Linked DNA regions of Homo sapiens. The protein of the gene in region 1 interacts with the protein of each later gene in a biochemical or structural test. Each region holds a gene or a part of one and is shown on either strand. Other genes may lie near its edges.

Evidence for each region.
Region 2: the proteins of NAGPA (region 1) and AP2A1 form a complex in vitro, tested with the Homo sapiens proteins (one study listed by BioGRID).

The regions. Positions count from the first base shown.
Region 1 is NC_000016.10:5,027,454-5,031,059, reverse strand, and holds part of NAGPA (N-acetylglucosamine-1-phosphodiester alpha-N-acetylglucosaminidase precursor), read left to right. Parts: intron 1-566; coding exon 567-675; intron 676-2,051; coding exon 2,052-2,180; intron 2,181-2,874; coding exon 2,875-3,080; intron 3,081-3,166; coding exon 3,167-3,214; intron 3,215-3,606. UniProt on the Homo sapiens protein: Catalyzes the second step in the formation of the mannose 6-phosphate targeting signal on lysosomal enzyme oligosaccharides by removing GlcNAc residues from GlcNAc-alpha-P-mannose moieties, which are formed in the first step.
Region 2 is NC_000019.10:49,773,299-49,777,108, forward strand, and holds part of AP2A1 (AP-2 complex subunit alpha-1), read left to right. Parts: intron 1-3,810.

The DNA.
Region 1 (3,606 bases):
TACTTGGGAGGCTGAAGCATGAGAATTGCTTGAACCTGGGAGGTGGAGGTTGCAGTGAGCTGAGATCATGCCACTGCACTCCAGCCCGGGCAACACAGCGAGACTCTTTGTCTCAAAAAAAAAAAAAGAGTGGGCGGTCAAGGAAGGCCTCACTAAGGAGGTGATCTGACAAAGGAGCAAGCTAGAGAAAAGCACAGTTCCCAGCCAGAGGGAACAGGAAGTGCAAAGTGGCTGCAGGGTGGTGAGGGGACACCCAGGAGCTGAGGCAGGAGGAGGAAGAGGCTGGGGAGGGCATGCTGGCTCTTTGGATTTTGTTCTAAGAACAGGGGAAACCATTAGAGGGTCTTCACCTGGAGGCTGGCATAGCTTGGTTTACCTGTAAGAAGAGACCCCCCGGCTGCCCTGGGGAGACTGGGATGTGCAGAGGGGAGGCAGGGAGACGAGCAAGGAGGCTGCTGTGCTTCCCAGGGAGGTACCAGGTAGCTCAGACCAGTGGGAAGTGGAGTTAGGCAAGAAGCAGGAGGCCTCCCAAGGGGCGGTGATCAGCCAGGCTGCTTTTCCTTCAGGTTCCTTTAGCAAATTTGTGAATGTGATATCAGCCAGGACGGCCATTGGCCACGACCGGAAAGGGCAGCTGGTGCTCTTTCATGCAGACGGCCAAACGGAGCAGCGTGGGTGAGTCCTGGGAGCTGAGGCCCCCCGGCCGGGGCTCAGTCCTGCTAGGAGGAACGTTGACCCAATGACAGCCACCCTCTGACTCTACCTGCTTTCTGGGATGTTGACACCTATCTGTCCCCCCTCCCAGGGCCCCCTCACCTTCCCACAGGATGAGGGTTCTGAGATCTTTGCCGATTCCAAGAACTCATCATCTTCAGCTTTAGGCCTCACCTTTCCTGAACCCTAGATAGGATACAAGGAAATGGTCACAAAGTGAGCAGGGAGAAGATCTTGGTTCCAATCCCAGCTTAGCCATCGATGACTTGTCTACCCACCTATGCCGTAGACAAGTCCCTCGGCCTCCCTGAGCCTCATTTCTAGCCCCTGTAAAGAGAGTGTTTTGGTTTGCTCTGGTTGCATAACCAGCACAAATTTAGCAACACTCAGCAGGGAATGTTCTTTTGTTTGTTTGTTTCTTTGAGACAGGGTCTTACTCCGTCGCCCAGGCCAGAGTGCAGTGGTGCAATCTCAGCTCACTGCAACCTCTACCTCTCAGGTTCAGGTGATCCTCCCACCTTAGCCTCCCAGGTAACTGGGATTACGGGCACCCGCCACCACACCCAGCTAATTTTTGTATTTTTAGTAGAGATGGGGTTTCATCATGTTGGCCAGGCTGGTCTCGAACTCCTGACCTCAGGTGATCCATCTACCTCGGCCTTCCAAAGTGCTGGAATTAACAGGCGTGAGTCACCGCACCTGGCTAATTTTTGTATTTTTAGTAGACACAGGGTTTCATCATGTTGGCCAGGCTGGTCAACTTGGAATGTTCTATGTTCAGGGTGTCCCATGGACAAAACCAAGATGCTGGTTAGGCAGGGCTCTTCTCTTATCTGGAAAGAATCCTCTTGTTTAGGTTGTTGGAAGAATCCCCGTCGCCTCCTCAGTTGTGACTGAGGTCTTGGTTTCCCTGCTGGCCGCCATCTGGGGCCTCAGCTCCTTCAAGCTGCCCAGGTTCCTTCCCATGTGTGTCCTCTCCCCCAGTTGTCCGGCCACCCTCTCATCCCCCTCGTATTTCAAATCTCACTTCCTATTCTGTCACCAGCCAGAGAAGGCTCTCTGTGTTGAACACTCCTGTGATTCCAGTGGCTGCACCCAGATCCTCCGGGCCGTTTCCCCTCCCTTAAGGATTCCTATGCCATGTAACAGCACAGGCATGGGTGTGATCTCACGTGTTCACAGCTTCCGGGGGCTAGGATGAGACATGCTTGGGGGCGGGGGCCACTTAGAAATGTGCCTGCACTGTGGGCGTGATGCTCTGCACTGTGGAAGGAAAAGGAGTTAAATGAGAAATGATGGTGGGCGCTGAGCCTGAGCAGCGCCGCTTTGTGCCGCAGCATCAACCTGTGGGAAATGGCGGAGTTCCTGCTGAAACAGGACGTGGTCAACGCCATCAACCTGGATGGGGGTGGCTCTGCCACCTTTGTGCTCAACGGGACCTTGGCCAGTTACCCGTCAGATCACTGGTAAGCACGTGAGAGCCGCCTTCGTGAGGGCTGAAGTCCAGGTCTGCCCCAGCCTGTCTCATTCAGCCAATATTGAGTGCCTGCTATGTGCCAGGCCCCGGGGGTTCAAGAGAGCAGAAATTGCTGCAGTCCCTCCCCCAGGATGCCAGTACTACCCAGGCCTAGGAGCAGGGTCAGTTGGTCAGCAAAGACCTCCCTGAGGATGACAGAATAAGAACTGAGATCTGAAGGAGGTGGTAGCTGGGTGGGGGTGGGAGAGCCTTCCGGGCAGAGGGCACCACATGTGAAAGGCCCAGGGCTGGGAGGGATTGTAGGGAGCGGAGGAACCTATAAAAGACTGGAGAGGGCTGGGCACAGGGGCTCACGCCTGGAATCCCAGTGCTTTGGGAGGCCGAGGTGGGAGGTTCGCTTGGGCCCAGGAGTTTAAGACCAGTGTGGGCAACATAGACCCTGTCTTTATGAAAAAATAAAAAAAAATTAGGCAGGCGTGATGGTGCACACCTTACGGTTACAGCTGCTCAGGAGGCTCGGGTGGAAGGATCGCAATACCTCATCTCAAAAATAGATAGACGCCATCTTGTAGGTAGGTAGGTAGACAGGTGAGAATGGAGAGAGGGGTGGTTGGGGGCAGCCTGGAGGGAGTTGAGGGGCCGTCTGGGGGTGTCCTCTCCTCACACATCACATCCCTCTACAGCCAGGACAACATGTGGCGCTGTCCCCGCCAAGTGTCCACCGTGGTGTGTGTGCACGAACCCCGCTGCCAGCCGCCTGACTGCCACGGCCACGGGACCTGCGTGGACGGGCACTGCCAATGCACCGGGCACTTCTGGCGGGGTCCCGGCTGTGATGAGCTGGACTGTGGCCCCTCTAACTGCAGCCAGCACGGACTGTGCACGGAGAGTGAGTGGGGGTTCTGGGGAGGGGGCTCTGCCCAGCCCTGCCTTGCCCTAGGCCCTCACCTGGCCTCCCCGGTCTTGTCTCGGCAGCCGGCTGCCGCTGTGATGCCGGATGGACCGGGTCCAACTGCAGTGAAGGTAGGAGCTGCCACGCCACTAGCGGATGGGGAGACGGTGGCCCCCGGCAGCCCCCACTGCTCCTCTGCTGCTTCTGTCTCCACCTTCTGGTCTGGGAAATGCTTGCCTCTTGTCTTCTGCCCCGGCCTCACCTGCACATCACTGTGTGACTCCCCTGTGGCTGCTGCGGCCCGTTCCACAAAGGGCTCGGCTAAAACAAGGGTCCCCGGGCTCTGGCTCCAGGGCCCACCTCAAATCCAGCACGGTCTTATCTTGAGATCCTAACTGCAGTGCCTCTGTAGAGATTCTGCTTCCAAATAAGGTCACGTTCAGGGGCTAGTCCAGGGAGGGCAGGGGGTGCTTCACCTTTAGCCCGGCTCTGTACACATGGGCAGGGGCAGGTATCCTGTCCT
Region 2 (3,810 bases), on another chromosome or scaffold:
GGAGAGTTGGACGAGTGAGCCAATGGGAGCGGGGTGCTGGCTGCACACTGCCCTGAGCTCTTCCATCAGAGCACATCCCACTCCAAATGGTGATCCACTGCAGTGGTGACATCGAGCCCAGGCCCTGGGTCTCACTCCAGCTTTGTCCTCTGTAGGTTCTAGCCCATGGGAGGCCTCAGGAGATGATTGCCAGTTGAATGAATGAATGAATGATGGAACCAGTCTTTCTTGAGTTCCAGCTGGGTGCCAGGCACTGTTCTAGGTGATGGGGCTACAGCAGTGAGCAGAAGTTCCTGCCCTAGGGTGCTCACGTTCTAGAGAGGAGATGGTCCACTACACAGGTGAATATTTTGGGGGCCGGACAGGTGGGAGTAGGTGTTGATGGAAAATGAGGCAAGGAAAGGGCTTGGGGATGGAGTTAAGGATGATGCTCTTATATAGGCTGGTCAGAGAGTGTCGCTGAAAAGGTGGCATTGGAGCAGAGAATCTAACTAAGTGGGGGAATGGTGCATGCATGACTCTGGAAGAGGGAGCTGCCTGTGCAAAGGCCCTGAGGCAGGATTGTGCTTGTAGTGGAGCAGGGACTTAGGAGGAGGAGAGGGCAGCTCCTGCCTTGGAGAGAGAGGACAGGAGAACCGGCCAGAGAGGGAACAGGGTAGATGGTGCAGGCCCTTGTGGGCTGCAGTGAGAACTTTACTTTTACTTCGAACTTGCTGGGAGCCATGGAAGGGGTTTGGAGGAGTGCTGGGGTCTGACTCAAGTTTTCACATGATCCCTCTGGCCTCTGTGAAGAGCACAGGAAGTCAAACAGATTTCAATTTGGTATCCCTTAAGAACGGGACAGATGCAGGCCTGAGCCCCAGCCCCACCCGTTTCCAGCTGGTTATTGTGTGATGGCTTTGGTCCACAAATCCGCATTCAACACCTCCCCTGTGCCAGGCTGCCCTGGGCCCTGGGAACACTGTGGGGACTGAAGCAGCCGTACATCCCTGGCCTCATGGCACTGGTGTTCCGATCCAGGAGGAAATGAACATGCAAACCCTTAATATGTAAGGAGGCAACTCAGGCAGGGTCTTGGTGGCCCAAATAGTTCGCCCTGCTGAGCAGGGGGGCTGACCAGGAGAATGAGAGGGTTTGATTTTGTTATTTACGAAGAATATATTTTCATCACCCAGGAATAGTGATGACCTTGAGAATATGAGTGGTGTAACCCAGCACCAAAATGCAAGCCATATATATGTTGAAATTTTCTTTTTTTTTTCTTTTTTTGAGACGGAGTCTTGCTCTGTCCACGCCCGGCATATGTTGAAATTTTCTTGCCACATTGCAAAAGCAAAACAGGGGCCAGGTATGGTGGCTCACGCCTGTAATCCCAGCACTTTGGGAGGCCGAGGCAGGCGGATCACGAGGTCAGGAGTTTGAGACCAACCTGGCCAACATAGTGAAACTCCGTCTCTACTAAAAATACACAAATTAGCTGGGCCTCGTGGCACACCTGTAGTCCTAGCCACTCGGGAGGCTGAGGCAGGAGAATCGCTTGAACCCAGGAGGTGGAGGTTGCAGTGAGCCGAGATTGTGCCACTGCGCTCCAGCCTGGGTGACAGAGAGAGACTTTGTCTCAAAAAAAAAAAAAAAGCAAAACAGGCTGAGCATGGCAGCTCACGCCTGTAATCCCAGCACTTTGTGGGGCCGAGGCGGGCAGTTTGGTTGAGCCCAGGAGTTTGAGAACAGCCTAGGCAACAAGATCCTGTCTCTCCCCACCACAAAAAAACTTTTAAAATTAGCCACGCATGGTGGCATGCACCTGTAGTCCTAGCTTCTTCGGAGGCTGAGATGGGACGATCGCTTGAGCCCAGGAGGTCGAGGTTGCAATGAGTCAAGATCGCACCACCACACTCCAGCCTGGACAATACAGCAAGACCCTGTCTCCATATATTTTTTAAAAAAGCAAAATAATCAGTGAAATTCATTTTAATATATTTTCTTTACCCTAGTATATCCAAACTATTATTTCAGTGTGTAACCAGTGTTTTTTGAGATGGAGTCTTGCTGTATGGCCCAGGCTGAGTGCAGTGTCAGGATCTCAGCTCACTGCAACCTCTACCTCCCAGGTTCAAGCGATTCTCCTGCCTCAGCCTCCCTAGTAGCTGGGACTACAGGTGTGCACCACCATGCCCGGCTAATTTTTGTATTTTTAGTAGATATGGGATTTTGCCATGTTGGCCAGGCTGGTCCCAAACTCCTGACCTCAAGTGATCCACCTGCCTCGGCCTCCCAAAGTGCTGGGATTACAGGTATGAGCCTGTGTTACCCAGGCTGGTCTCAGATTCCTGGGCTCAAGTGATCTGCCTGTCTCAGCCTCCCAAAGTGCTGGGATTAGAGGCGGGAGGCATTGCACCCAGCCTTCAGAAGGCTTTCTGAGGATTCAGGGCTGCTGGGGCTTGTACAGGAAGCACATCAGGTCTCGGTCTCTGTAGAGGAAATGTCCTTGGTCTAGAAGGCTCTGAAGGCCTTTGCGGTGAGATGCTGGGTGATGCCTGTGTTACCTTCATAAATGCACATTAGTCCCTCCAGGGCAGGGCCCAGGTTTGACAGGATGCCTTTGCTGGTAGTAACAGACCCACCCTGATCTGGGGCTTACATGTTTAGGGAAGGCGTTATCTCCCCTAACCAGAAGCTCCAAGGTAAGGCAGCTCCCTGGCCCCGTCAGCACTTCCCTTGACTCTGCCTTACTCTGCCTGGAGCAAGATGTTGGCCGCCTTCGCACCCGAACACCCCTCACGGCAACAGCCACTGGACGGAGCACGGCCTGCCCCTCCCATGGCCCCCCCCAGCACCTCAGAAAACTCTGGAGAGGCTGCGTGGTCTGGCCCCACCTGCTGTGCTCTTCTCCACCCGCCCCCGCCGCCGCCCGCATCCTCAGACTCTGTGCCTCTTTCATCACCGTCCGCCTGCCTTGCCTCATGCTGTCCTACCTCCAGGCCATTGCACCTGCTGGTCCTCCTGCCTGGAGCGCGCCTCCCCTTGTTTCTGCCTGGTCCATTTCAGCCTCATCTTTTGATCCTCAGATCCCAGCAGCTGTGTGCAGAGAAGCCTTCCCCGTCCCCTGCGCCATTCTCATTTTAGCCTCTCAGCCCCGAAATGTGTATACCTCTTTCAGAATACTTGCCACTGTCCCTGTCTGCCACCACTCCAATCCAGGGATGCCTCGAGAGCAGGGTAGATGTGACTCATCCTTAAGCCTGGCCCCAGAAATCCCATTGTGAATGAGAGAATCCCTTTAAAACTCTCTCACAGGCTTGCTTGCCTCCTGTGACAGTGAGCTCATTCCCCCTGTTGCTGGCCCTGAATGCCGGGTCATTCTTCCCATGATCCTGGTCTGTCAGAGCTGCCTCAGCCCTTTCCCCAGGCACCACCCCAGTAGCACCCATACAGTATCCCTGGGCTCCCTGGCCATCACGGGCCTTTAGATCTTTGCAGAGCTGGGCCTCTGCCAGAGCCCTCCCTTTGGGGCCACAACTGCTCCTGTTTTGAAGACCGAGAGCTTTTCTTCTCTCTCTGAATTCCTTTTTTTATAGCAAATTATACCAGTTATGCAGAAGATAGCATCAAATAGATGTGGACCATTTAAAGCCTATTTAAAGGCCAGGTGCAGTGGCTCATGCCTGTAATCCTAGCACTTTACTTTGGGAGGCTGAGGCGGGTGGATCACTTGAGGTCAGAAGTTCAAAACCAGTCTGGTCAACATGGTGAAACCCTGTCTCTACTAAAAATGCGGAAAAAAAAAAAAGCCAGGTGTGGTGGTGGGTG